Linked DNA regions of Homo sapiens. The protein of the gene in region 2 interacts with the protein of the main gene of each other region in a biochemical or structural test. Each region holds a gene or a part of one and is shown on either strand. Other genes may lie near its edges.

Region 1 (7,026 bases), on a different chromosome or scaffold from region 2:
TGCAGCAGGAAGGGAGAGTTTTTTCTTGAAGTGGTGGGACTTGAGCTTGCCTTCATAAAGGAGACCTTTGGGAAGTAGGGAGAAAGGGAAGAAGATCAAACTTTCTAAGAGGCATGAGTAACTTGGCCCTGGGTAGGAAGCCACCTAAGCTTGCTGGCTGAACACAGAGTGTGTGTGGAGACTGGAGAAAGCAGAAAAGCAGAGTGGTCCATCCTAATGAATACAGGATGTCCAATGGGGAAAGGTTTGGTATGTGGCTTTAGGTAAACTACTTAAACTGACTGACTTTTAGGGGCATTACTTGCACTATCCAGGCAAGTCCATGTCTGCTGTAGAGCATAACTGTTGGGTTCAAGTGAGATAATTGAATAGAAATTCTTCGTAAATGTTGAAGACTGAGTGTTGATGGATGATTACGGTGGCACTGAGGTGGTGGGTGATTCCGGAACCACGGCGTTTTTGTGCTGGAAGTAACCAAGGGCTGCCCTAACTCTTCACATTTTACCAATAAAGACAGAAGCCAGACCTGAGGGTACCTGCTCAAGCTGGTTAATAGCAGCAGCACAAGAACTAGAACTCCAGTCTCTTGGGTTGAGGAAAATAAAAATTGCAAGTCCAAGTCAACTCTCCAGATAACTGGGTTTCTCATCTTGCACCAGGTCAACCTGGTGAGTTTAGTGAAGACCATGAGACCCCATTCAACTTAATTACTGGAGAGCCCCTGAGGCCCCACAGCATATCAGGCTGAGAGCAGGAATTCTGACTCTCAGTGTCATTCCTGGGATCACATTCCATCTCACAAATATTTAAGCAAGGGCATGAGGGCAAGTTGCCAAGTAGTACGATACAAAACAAATGTCTCATTGTGTTTGTTGCTGCACAGTGTGTTGTTTGTGTGGTCCAAAAACCATCAAGTGACTATAACTAGAATGTGACAGTAATTTGTAACAACAGTGACTTTTTTGGGGGGAGGGTCTACTTTTGTGACATGCTTCAAAATTCTGAGAAAGGGTTGCAAAAGAAATGTTCAGAAATGTACTAAATGGGCTTAGAAAACTTGTGAACCCTGTCTGAACTTTTATTAGATTGTCCCACCACTCACCCATTTGACATCTGAACAAGGAAAGCATTATTTATAACAGCATGCGTGAAATCCCAGAAGGGATTCTTGAAAGAATTAGAGTGAAAAATCTGCCCCAAAGAGACAGCAAGCAGAAAATAAATGATCAGATGAGAAAACATGTAAATCAAAACGTGAATCTTTTGTTCTCTCTCTCTTCTTTAAAGGAAACAGAAGCTTTTTCTTGGCTATTAGCAATTCAGGATAGAGAACCAGTATCAGGTTTTCTATCTTGCATTGCTAATGACCAAAAAAAGTGGGTGCTGCTATCAAAGGAGCCACTTGGTTAAGGCCAAATGAAGAGTTCAGGAGAGTGACATATGATGATTCTTCTTAATGTCTCCAGAATGGCTGCTTCTGGAGTAAGTAAGAGAGTGAAGGTTCCAGAGAAGAAAGCCACACCTCAAAAGCATTAATACTTTAAGACTTAGAAAACACTTTCACAAATGCCTGCTTGAGTAAATACCTCCCAACAACATTAGGAGGTATACATTATTACTTACATATAATTATTAAACCTTGGCCACAGAGAGATTTGGCAACTAGTCCAGGTTACCCCAGTAGGAAACAGGTAAGTGAGCGATTGGAAACCAGCTATTGTCATCCACTGCATTGCAGCTGTGAATATCCAGGTAGATATGGAAATCCTGAGATCTTGCTAGATTAACACACCTCAAAGTGTATTTTTAGCTGTCTTACCTGAGACATATATAAATGGTTATCTCTCCCACAAACATACATTCAAATAGTTTAATTTACCAAAGTTAAGTTTGTTCTTTCCTGCCAAACTCCTCACATACTTTAATAAGCCTCAGTCCCTGATGGATCTCCTTGAATTGAAGAGGGTTGCAATTTACAGTACATTTGACATATTTGATCTAGGAACTTCTGGGGTTGTTAAAATAACACAACTCAGACAGCATAACAAGAAGACCAGGTCCCAGTCTTTATTTTAAGATTCCTACTTCTCTAAGCCCACTTTGACCACTGGGGTTCTATTTTATCTAACGAGAAAGAACAGCAACACCAAAATGCACAGTGGAGCTGGTTGCACCATAGCACTATGCTGACATGAACAATGATGAAATGAGCTCTTCTTTATAGGGTAGGAAGAAGGTTAAAATGAGAGAGGTAAGGTTAAAAATAAGATGTATAGCAGAAGGGATTATTTTTCCCTTTGATTTCATCTTACCCATTTTTTTTTGCATGTTAGGTAAGCAAAACAATGCCATGTTTGTATCTTAAGAGGTTCCCATAAAATGCTTGCTGTGTGGATGAAAATGGTCTGTTAAAATGTGTAGACCTCTGTCCTATCTGCACCACCCAGGCAAGGTCACATAATTGCCAGGAGCAATTTCATCATCTGTAGGCTAGAGGTGCCACCAAGAGTCCTGAGTTCTTTATGGTTTGCTCACACAATTAAATGACACCAGACGTGTATAGATGTTTTCTAAACCATATGGTACATTCCAATTATGGCTTCAGAGAATGGCAAGGAGACTAGAGATGCTTTATTCTAGGGGTTAACAATCTTTGAAAATGTGTGTGCCAAAGTGCCCAGCCTTTTCTGGCACATAAACAGAAGGGTCATTTGCCCACCTCTGCAAGGTGGCAGCAGCATCCCTGCATGGCCCAAAGCAGTCCTCTCCTTGGCATTGCCATGTGGGCTGCCCAGACCTGGTGAGATCATTCTACCCTCATACCGCAAGTCCTCCAAAGCATCTGGAAACAACAGGTCCTCTGTGTATGTCAGCAGATTCCCTCTCCCAAAGTCCTGGGCACCTGGGGGTCACAGAGTTATAAACAGGGCAGATATTTGCCAAACCAGAAATGTGCTGAAATAGCTGCACCCATATTTACTACCCACATCCTTTCTGGTTGGTCAGTGTCTGTGCCACACTGATTGCAGTTTGAGTATCGACCCTGAGGGTGACTGTTGCCACCACCTTCAGACATCAAGTAAGACCATAAGAGAAGTCTCTGTCCATTGAACACTGATGACCTGTCACTGCTGAAGGAAGAGTGAGGAAATCTAAGGCCAATGGAAGCCAACTTAGCCTTTATGAGCTTTTTGTTTATTAAAAACTGAATAGTAGAGATGGGTCACCTGAGCCAGAAGTTTTTGTCCCTATTTGTCAAATTTGGATGCATCATACAGAGAAGAATGAAATAAAATATCCTCCCCCTTTTGTACTCTTGTGCTTTCTTTGGTGCTAAGAACATCACTGGGAATCACCAAGCATGTTAGACATCTCTGACATTTCAGCCTCTTGGGTTCTGGGGTAGGGGAACATTTTCCAGACACTATTAGTTTATTTTCTTCCTTTAATAAATACTAACTGGATATTGAGATTAGAATTGGGCAGAAACTCTATGCACCATTACTCTATAAACTCAGGACCCAGAGTTGTTAGAGAGGTCCAATTTTCTGCTGTAGGATAAGCCCACCTGCTCTCAGCTGTCAGGCATACTGTGTAGCATGGTGGTGCTGGGGGGTTACCAGGATGAAAAGCAGAACCTACCGCCACAGGACTACTGTGCAGAAATCTGTTCATGGGTTTGAAATCGGGCATCCCTGACAAACCTGGAAATGAGCTTCCTAACTTTCCTCCATGAAGTAGGAAGTCATATACAATTTTACTTTGTCAAAGAAAGTTTTCTTTGCCTGTACTAATGCGATTGCTATCTGATGCCCCAGTCTCAGTGTTTTCATTAAAATGGGCATTTAAAAAATGTATTTATCTATTGTGGTAAATAATCTAAGGAGCAGTGCCCTGTAATAGAGGAAAGTCCTGAGCTTAGAATCCAAAGACCTGAGTTTTGTTTCTGTAAGCAATCTGAATCTTATTGCCTTATTTGTAGAATGAGAATAATGATGCCTGACCTGCCCATCGCTGAGTGATGGTGGAGGGGTTTGAATCAGCATCATGCACACATAAGACCTGAAAGCAGAAGGAGACTCTGGCCTTGCCAAGGAAGTAGAGTCACTGGTTGGTCATTTTGGATGCAGAGTACCTCTTTGTTCTCCTGGTCAAAGTGATCTTGTTAATTAGAAGATTGAGTCATCCTCTTAGCAGAAAGTGTGTGTATGTGTGTGTAGTTTTATTTATCCAAGGTGATCATCTACCTAATCATCATCCCTGCTCCTATCTGGTTTTGAGAGAAAGAATTGCAGATAATATTTTTTTAAATGATTTTGATCACTCTTTGCCTTCTGTCTCTGTTGCTTGAGACTGTGAAGAAGTCATATATCCTTTATGTGTTTATAAACAATTAAAACTATAAAGTGCAAATAAGGAAAGCAAACAGTGTCCCCCAGCAGCTCCCTTCCACACCTGGTTTCGGGGTGACTGATGCCTCCCTGTTGATCCCTTTCTCCCCAGGTCGGTGGCCACACAATGCTGCCCATTCGCTGGATGCCTCCAGAGAGCATCATGTACAGGAAATTCACGACGGAAAGCGACGTCTGGAGCCTGGGGGTCGTGTTGTGGGAGATTTTCACCTATGGCAAACAGCCCTGGTACCAGCTGTCAAACAATGAGGTGTGCAATGGGTCTGGCCAAGACCCTCCAGAGGGCTGAGATCCCAGAGGCATCCATTGGCTGGGGCCTTGTTTTGGGTTGGAAGACCATGTCAGGACACGATCTTATGGGCTTTGTTGGTGGCAGCACTTCCCAAGTAGCCTGCTATGTTTCTAAATTTCATGGTCAAAGTATAATCACTCTGAGAAAGCAAAGCACAGTGCTCGCTGCTATGTCCTTGCTCCTCTGGTGATGGGACTGAGGAGTCACTTTATGCAGCTCATCTGATAAATTAATAGCAGACGTAGCATTCCAGAATCCATACAGTCCAGCAAGTTCTTTAGTATTGTTCCAATGAAGTTTCAAGATTCTTTCCTTTTTGAATATTTCACCAGAACATTAACTTCTAGTGAAAAACTCAAGCATTTTGTTTTTTCTATTCTTACGCTTGCAAATATTGTTTATATTTGAGGCACAGCATCTTGATCAGGCACCGTACATCTTTTTCAGATCCATTTCTATCTTTTTAATCCAGTTCCTTTATCCAATAGCCTGAGAGGTTTCCTGTCAGTCAGTGCCTTAACACCCAGGTGACTCAGGTTCCATCTCAGACCAATAAAAACCACAACATGTGGGAGCTCCAGTGTGAGGTTTGGGACCATTCCATATAAATTATTTTTCCACCAGTTTTGTGAAATCAGAGTGGCTTGGACAAATGGATATAAGCCAATCAAAATAAACACGATATAAACTAACCTATAATAATTGCTCTCTTCCTTCTGAGAAAACAAAACCAAGAGTGGGCTTCTTTTGTAAAAGCCCTCTCTTCTGCTGTTTTTTTGCACTGACATTTCTTCGATGTGCATTGCTTTTCCTCCTGTCTCATCCTATCTTTGATCTCCATCCAGGTGATAGAGTGTATCACTCAGGGCCGAGTCCTGCAGCGACCCCGCACGTGCCCCCAGGAGGTGTATGAGCTGATGCTGGGGTGCTGGCAGCGAGAGCCCCACATGAGGAAGAACATCAAGGGCATCCATACCCTCCTTCAGAACTTGGCCAAGGCATCTCCGGTCTACCTGGACATTCTAGGCTAGGGCCCTTTTCCCCAGACCGATCCTTCCCAACGTACTCCTCAGACGGGCTGAGAGGATGAACATCTTTTAACTGCCGCTGGAGGCCACCAAGCTGCTCTCCTTCACTCTGACAGTATTAACATCAAAGACTCCGAGAAGCTCTCGAGGGAAGCAGTGTGTACTTCTTCATCCATAGACACAGTATTGACTTCTTTTTGGCATTATCTCTTTCTCTCTTTCCATCTCCCTTGGTTGTTCCTTTTTCTTTTTTTAAATTTTCTTTTTCTTTTTTTTTTCGTCTTCCCTGCTTCACGATTCTTACCCTTTCTTTTGAATCAATCTGGCTTCTGCATTACTATTAACTCTGCATAGACAAAGGCCTTAACAAACGTAATTTGTTATATCAGCAGACACTCCAGTTTGCCCACCACAACTAACAATGCCTTGTTGTATTCCTGCCTTTGATGTGGATGAAAAAAAGGGAAAACAAATATTTCACTTAAACTTTGTCACTTCTGCTGTACAGATATCGAGAGTTTCTATGGATTCACTTCTATTTATTTATTATTATTACTGTTCTTATTGTTTTTGGATGGCTTAAGCCTGTGTATAAAAAAGAAAACTTGTGTTCAATCTGTGAAGCCTTTATCTATGGGAGATTAAAACCAGAGAGAAAGAAGATTTATTATGAACCGCAATATGGGAGGAACAAAGACAACCACTGGGATCAGCTGGTGTCAGTCCCTACTTAGGAAATACTCAGCAACTGTTAGCTGGGAAGAATGTATTCGGCACCTTCCCCTGAGGACCTTTCTGAGGAGTAAAAAGACTACTGGCCTCTGTGCCATGGATGATTCTTTTCCCATCACCAGAAATGATAGCGTGCAGTAGAGAGCAAAGATGGCTTCCGTGAGACACAAGATGGCGCATAGTGTGCTCGGACACAGTTTTGTCTTCGTAGGTTGTGATGATAGCACTGGTTTGTTTCTCAAGCGCTATCCACAGAACCTTTGTCAACTTCAGTTGAAAAGAGGTGGATTCATGTCCAGAGCTCATTTCGGGGTCAGGTGGGAAAGCCAAGAACTTGGAAAAGATAAGACAAGCTATAAATTCGGAGGCAAGTTTCTTTTACAATGAACTTTTCAGATCTCACTTCCCTCCGACCCCTAACTTCCATGCCCACCCGTCCTTTTAACTGTGCAAGCAAAATTGTGCATGGTCTTCGTCGATTAATACCTTGTGTGCAGACACTACTGCTCCAGACGTCGTTTCCCTGATAGGTAGAGCAGATCCATAAAAAGGTATGACTTAT
Region 2 (7,026 bases):
ACAAAATGGAAGTCAAGGTGAAGAGAAATTTTGTAAAACGTAAAAGAAATGCCCCAGATATTGTGTACTTGAATCTCTTTGGTCTGATAAAGTATATGGGTTACTGTGAAACTCTGAAAAAATTTTAAGATGTCTAATTCATTCAAATAAGTTATGAAACTCATTTGTTTATTATGTTTAATTTAAAGGACTTGGTTCAGATCAATTCCATCACTACCTAAATATTCAAACTGGTCCCCTTTTGAACTGACTGAAAATAGACATTAAATTCCAGGTTCATATATGTTTCATATTTTACCTTCAAAGGTTTAACTGCTTTCTGCATGTATTACAATATAGGGGAGTGCATCAGGGAGTTCCTATTAAAATTTCTTTCTGCAGACATTAAGGTATGTGGAGCACTGAAGATTTATCCCATGGTAACCAATAAATTGTATAACTAATTTCATTTTAGTGATAAGTGAACATTGCTCAACAAACACACATACTGCTTGTCATACCTTACCTGGAAAGAGGCTTTATTGAACATAGCTGTAAAATTATATTTTAAGTTGAATTACTGAATTTGCACAAACATTTCTACAGAATTGTTTTAAAAAACAAGCTTTGTCATTTTCCACTACATTTTGTTGTGCTTTTATATTAATATTTGCAAATGCTATAATTTAATACTTATATTCCAATTGCTTGCATAATCAGTTTTTTTAATCCTGGGGTGTTGAAAGAACATATAATAATAATATTCTTCTTAGACAAAAGTCTTTTTAAATGAAGTTAAAAGCTGAGATAATTTAAGGAAAATGATCTTCAAATTTTCATAACCAACAGGTTTAAGTGAAATTTACAATGCATTGGAAAACTGGCTGGTTAAAGATATGATTTGTCGTCAGGTAGCTCAAAATTATTTTTACAGGTTTTTGTTTTTTTGTAAAAGTGTTTTTATAATCTTGGTAAAATAATAAAATAATATTTCACAATTTGCACAGAGTCTGACTAAAGGGCAGAGGCATATTACCCTCAGAGTTTAGAATAAAGCCAGATTTTTCAGGCCCAGTTCCACTGTAGAGTTAGTATGCACTGCAATCCCAAACATTTTCTTGTTCCCTCTAAAGCTAGGGCCAATTTCATTTCAAATGGAGGTTAGAGTAAAAAAATCACTTTTGTGTTTTACCACCTTCTGCACTAAGTATTCTTAATAACCTTTTGCTCTGGTTGACCCATTTAATAACCTGGAAGAAAAAAAGTGTTGCTCCATGTCTGGTCTCAATGGAAGTGATTTTCTAATGGACAATAAGCCGAAAGGCCATGGCTGTCTAGGAGGTTAAACAACAAATATCTTGTCTGCATGGGCTTACGCAGCAGCTTCGGTCCTTTCTTCTTCAGAAGCGGCTTTGTTGTCTTGCCTGTAATTTGCACATTTAGGCTCTGTAGTTTGTTTATAAAATAGTTTTACACAAACCACTCTTAGCAGTGCAAGCTTCTGAGTTGAAAATTATTCAGGCTTGTTTCATTGAAGGCACTTGGTTTCCATGGCAATTTATAAAAGATGGTGGTTTGGTTTCTTCATTGGAACAGATGACGTAGTTTGGGTGTTCAAGTGGCCGCAAGCAAACTCCGATAAGCCTGTGTAACATGTAAGCCCAGGTTTACCATCCTGGATAGTAGTGCATGCAAAAAGAGACAGCATACAGTTATCTAGCTTAGCCATGGGAGAAAAATAATAATAATAAAGGTGGGATGGGGATAAGGTGGGGAGAAACATGAATGCTTTAAATAATTCTGAGTTCGGGTTATTTTCAAGGAAGGGTAACAGCCAAAGGTAAAAGGGCCTACATTTATTTAATTCTCTACGAAAACCTTCTCGTAAGGAAAATAAATGCCAGCTCTTCACGTACCCTGTTTACAGTGAGGTTTTTGTTGGCAGGCCATTAGGTTTCCATGGTAACAAGCAAACTATTCATTTGAAACAAAACCAGCCATGACTTTGTGCTTTGACAAGGATTTCTATAGCTCTTTTTTTTTTCTTTTTTTCATTTTTTTTTTTTTTTCCAGAGTTCAACCAGATGACGCTGTAATCTTTTTAGCCACAAAAGCACCTGAAGGTCTCTTCTCTACTCAGGTCAAGATTATCTTTTATGTTTAGTCTGGAATAAGTTATACTTCCATGATGTCTTTTTATCCCCAGTGCTTAAAAAAATTTGTTTTTATTATTTTATTTTTGAGTCAGTAGTCAGTGGAGGAATCTTTGGTAGTTTGTTTGTTCAATGTCCATTTACAAAGACTCTTTCTTCATGCCAGTGCCTGGTGAATCTTTTATAGCCTCTGCCAGGATAAGGTCACCTTCGAGGACTTAAGATAGAGATGAGGACGATAATGGGAAAAAGCCATATATGAACCAAAATCCCAACAGCACCATCAACGGAATCTAAAGATAAGGAAAATAAATGCAAACAAAAAAAGAAGAATAATAAGCATTCCACGTAGCTACTAACACAACCTTGGTGAATAATAAAACAAGTATATGGAAAATATTTCTGGAAAATATTTATTTTTATTTTGTTTTATTTATCAGCTTCATTGCTAAGGGAAGTGAAAAGGAAAATGAATATATGGTTAAGGCACTTGATAAAAAGATTTACAGATTTTGAATTGATATAATATGCTATGAAAACTTGTTCATAACATATTCACATAGGTTTGTGGTTGAGCTCAATCTTAAGAGTTCTGCTAGCCACAGGAAAGCAGGAACATGGAGAAAATTATCAGAATACTTCAAAAAGTAGATTTTTTTTCAAGCTTCCCGAAGTGGATAAGCTTGAAGACTGAAAGAAAATCTATCTTAATGAAAACTAGAAAGGGATGGTTATGTGTACAGAAATTAACTATTGCAACTAGTAGATGATCCATGTTTAGATCGGTCCATTATCTATAAATTATACAAATAATTTTCTCTTTATTTTAACTTTTAGAGGCATGATGAAGTCCATTCAAACTAAAAAATCCCTTCCACCAATCGGCCTGGAAAGTCCTACTGTAATTGGGATTTCTGTTAAAACCTGGTGTCCAGTTGATGCCTCTTAGAATGCATGCCTTACTGTGGAGGGATAACACAGATATAATTCATTAAACTAGCTAAAGTTGCAAAGTGGCTTGTATCTAGGGGAGAATTGAGTTTGAAAATTGAGACATACAATCTTATATCTGCATGGTGTGGACCATAGTTCCATTTATTGCCTGGAAAGAACTGGCAGCCTGAGGAATCAGGAAGAGGCTTTCAGCCTTCAGGCTGGTCTGTACTTAGAATATAATATTCATTTAATAATCATCAATCAATCAAATGCTAGTCATAAAATGAACTTAATAAATGGTAATTAAATGACACAAATGTAACAGAAAACTTTCTGATGCCAAATAGATTATTTGTGTTCAATTAAGATTATTTATTTCCCCTAATTTATAGAGTTTAAATATAAATACACCCAATACATACAGGGGGTGTTTTCATATTTAAAACTGCCACACATTTCTTGGATTTGCTAGTTTAAGAGAAAAAAAAAACTAATTATAAAAATGTTCTATTGTAATAGAACTTGTACAGTAATGAAGTCCCTATGGGCTTTCACAGGCATTTACTGTGGCTAGTTTTATCAGTTATGCTTTCTTTCTGCACTAGGGAGTAAATAATTTCCTTTGCTTTCTTCCTTTGAAAAGTTTAATTCAATTTATTGAATTTATTTATAATATTTGTGCTTACATTATGAAAATGTAAAATTTCTGTATATAGTTGTAACTGCCTTCAATTAATAAAATGTTACTGCCACTCAGTCATACTATGAAATTCAAAAGAAATCCTATTCTCCTTTGAGGAGAATACATGTTTTCCTGTGCATTAGAAAAACTGTTCTTTTGAGTATAGCTACTGGTTTTCTAAAGCAGAACTAGACAGACACAAGGATACATTTTTACTAAATATGTTACTTGAAATACTAAGTTTATGACTTTTTAATATATTTTCATTTTATATAACAATGAGCAAAATGGCTCATTGTTATATAAAAATCTTAGTTTTTGTCTTTTGACAATACTTAAGAATTGAGTCAATTCAGTTCATATGAGTAATCAGTGGACAATTGTACACATTCAACTTTCAACATCTAGACTGGTACAGTTTCTCACTAAATATAGAAAATTACCAAAGACTCTGATTTGCTCTAGATTTATACAACATAGATTTTCATGCTTTTGTATGTGCTAAATAATTGATGAGTAATTTGTGTAAATTTAGTTTGATTACTTTCTCTATATATGACCACAAAATAAAAGATTCCAGATGAGTCTAAGATAATCCTTCAATTGCAGTCATTTTTAACAGGAATGATTTTAGATTTCATAGCTTCGAATGTGAAATATGGAGATGAGGACTTTAAGAAGCAGCTAAATACATAATTCTAAATCTTTGTGCATTATTCATCATGTTTTATTTATATCTCTTCTATTATAAAATGGACCTGTGACAAAAAAATAAAATTAAATATATCATTAAACCATAATACTCAAAAAAGGGTATAAAGTGAAAATCAAATTATTAAACAAGCTTGTGGTGCAGATAGGAGATTAGACCATAAATATGAGGTCTACTTCATTACTTAATATATGTATTTAGGCTCTTTACAATGCTGAATCTGTTAAAATGGCTGGCAAAAGGCCAGGCACAGTGGCTCACGCCTGTAATCCCAGCAGTTTGGGAGGCCGAGGCAGGTGGACCACCTGAGGTCGGGAGTTCGAGACCAGCCTGGCCAACATGGTGAAACCGCGTCTCTACTAAAAATACAAAAAATTAGCGGGGTGTGGTGCCGCGAGTCTGTAATCCCAGCTACTCAGGAGGCTGAGGCAAGAGAATCACTTGAACCCGGGAGGCGGAGATTGCAGTGAGCAGAGATTGCACTGTTGCACTCCAGCCTGGGCAACAAGAGCAAAACTCCGTCTCAAAAAAAAAAATTGGCTAAATCAGGAAATATATTCACTATATTCACAAACTGGACGAATGAAAGCATCTATGCTGACATGGTAAGGCTTTGTGTCCTCACACAAGTCTCATCTTGAAATATAATCTGCATAATCCCCATGTTTCAAGGGAGAGACCAAATCTCATCTTGAAATATAATCCGCATAATCCCCATGTTTCAAGTGAGAGACCAGGTGGAGGTAACTGAATCATGGGGGCTCTTCCCCTATGCTCTTCTCATGAAAGTGAGTTTTCACTAGATCTGATGATTTTTATTATTATTATTATTATTATGTTTTTGAGACAGACTCTTGCTCTGTCGCCCAGGCTGGAGTGCAGTGGCGTGATCTTGGCTCACTGCAAGCTCCGCCTCCCGCGTTCACGCCAATCTCCTGCCTCGGCCTCCCGAGTAGCTGGGACTACAGGGACTACACGCCCGGCTAATATTTTTTCTTTGTATTTTTAAATAGAGACGGGGTTTCACCGTCTTAGCCAGGATGGTCTTGATCTCCTGACCTTGTGATCCACCCGCCTCGGCCTCCCAAAGTGCTGGGATTACAGGCGTGAGCCACCGCGCCCGGCCGATCTGATGATTTTATAAGGGGCACTTCCCCCTTCTCTCAGCAATTCTCCTTGCTGCCTTGTGAAGAAGGTACTCTGCTTCCCCTTCACCTTCCGCCATGATTGTGAGTTTCCTTAGGCCTCCCAGCCTTGCTGAACTGTGAGTCAATTAAATCTCTTTCTTTTATAAATTACCCAGTGTTGGGCAGTTCTTTATAGCAGTATGAAGATTGACTAATACAATTTACATTGTAAATATGTGCTATGTATATAGGTTCATCAAATATTTTAATACAAGTTTTTAAATCTTCTAAAACAAATAATATCAAAGTGTTTTAAAATCTTAATTAAAAATCAAAGTGTACTTGCCTTACGTAGATCTAAATCAAAATCTCACTTCTATTTTATCTTAGGCCAAATATGTCTACAATTGAATTTAATACTTTAAAAATAACTGAACAAACTTTAGGGTATTACATATAAGAAATTTCTAAATAAACCAACTAAAAATAACTCCGTTTTTAAAATTAATTAAATTAAATGTTAATTTAATAGTAATGTTACTTTAACGTTACAACAAACCAATCTCAAGCAAAGATACTTACTCTTAGTTGCTAGGTCTTGTTTTGCACATTCTCCTTCTGCAATTGATACATCATCAATAGCAATGTCACCTTCTATTCCAGGACCTCGGATACCTTCAAAAATGAGCTACAAATATGAATGAAACAAACCTAAATGTGGAGCTTTGATTTGCAGATCAGTTTCTCTTGAGAAATCAAGGTGACAAAAATAAACTTGTCAGTAATCCTGGCATCTTTTATATTTGATGGCTTTCAAAATTAAAACTTGCAGAAAACATAAACTTTCATCCCAAAACCAGTAATTGAATCTTCCTTGCATTGTATTAGTTTTTCACATCAAAAGCTCTGTGTCGATTTTAAAGCAAAACTAAACTTAATTAAATAATACAATTAAAAAAAATGACTACACATCCTCTTTTAATTTTTAAGGATAAGAAAAAATGTTTTATTTGAAAAGTCTTTCTCTGAGATAGATTCTTTCTGGTTTTATCTGAACATAACTCATAACATTAGTTTTCTAGAAATATTTTAAAGAATGAATCAATTCTGAATTCTTTACAACAGTAATATGTATATTGAAGCCCGGAACAAAGTGTTTCTATCTCTGACATTGATTTCTCACAAATAGATTGAATAGGTTCGTCATATTCCCATGTTGACTTTATAATTTACCTCCATGATTTCACTGCTGATATTCCATTTTTTTAAACTTGAAGATATGTATCAGTCTATTTATGTTGAATATCTCACGGTATACCTTTGAATTTATGGTGTCTATAACAATGGTGGTCACTGAGGCTCAGTGCATGAATATTGAAAGAATAAATGAGTACAATCAGAATCCTTTATTATTAAATACTTAAAACAATGACAATA

Evidence for each region. Proteins that work in one complex are often made in the same cells at the same time.
Region 1: the proteins of MDGA2 (region 2) and NTRK2 form a complex in vitro, tested with the Homo sapiens proteins (one study listed by BioGRID).

The regions. Positions count from the first base shown.
Region 1 is NC_000009.12:85,015,703-85,022,728, forward strand, and holds part of NTRK2 (BDNF/NT-3 growth factors receptor isoform a precursor), read left to right. Parts: intron 1-4,503; coding exon 4,504-4,662; intron 4,663-5,549; coding exon 5,550-5,735; 3' UTR 5,736-7,026. UniProt on the Homo sapiens protein: Receptor tyrosine kinase involved in the development and the maturation of the central and the peripheral nervous systems through regulation of neuron survival, proliferation, migration, differentiation, and synapse formation and plasticity.
Region 2 is NC_000014.9:46,839,595-46,846,620, forward strand, and holds the end of MDGA2 (MAM domain-containing glycosylphosphatidylinositol anchor protein 2), read right to left. Parts: intron 6,278-7,026; coding exon 6,172-6,277; intron 2,426-6,171; coding exon 2,337-2,425; 3' UTR 498-2,336; downstream 1-497. UniProt on the Homo sapiens protein: May be involved in cell-cell interactions.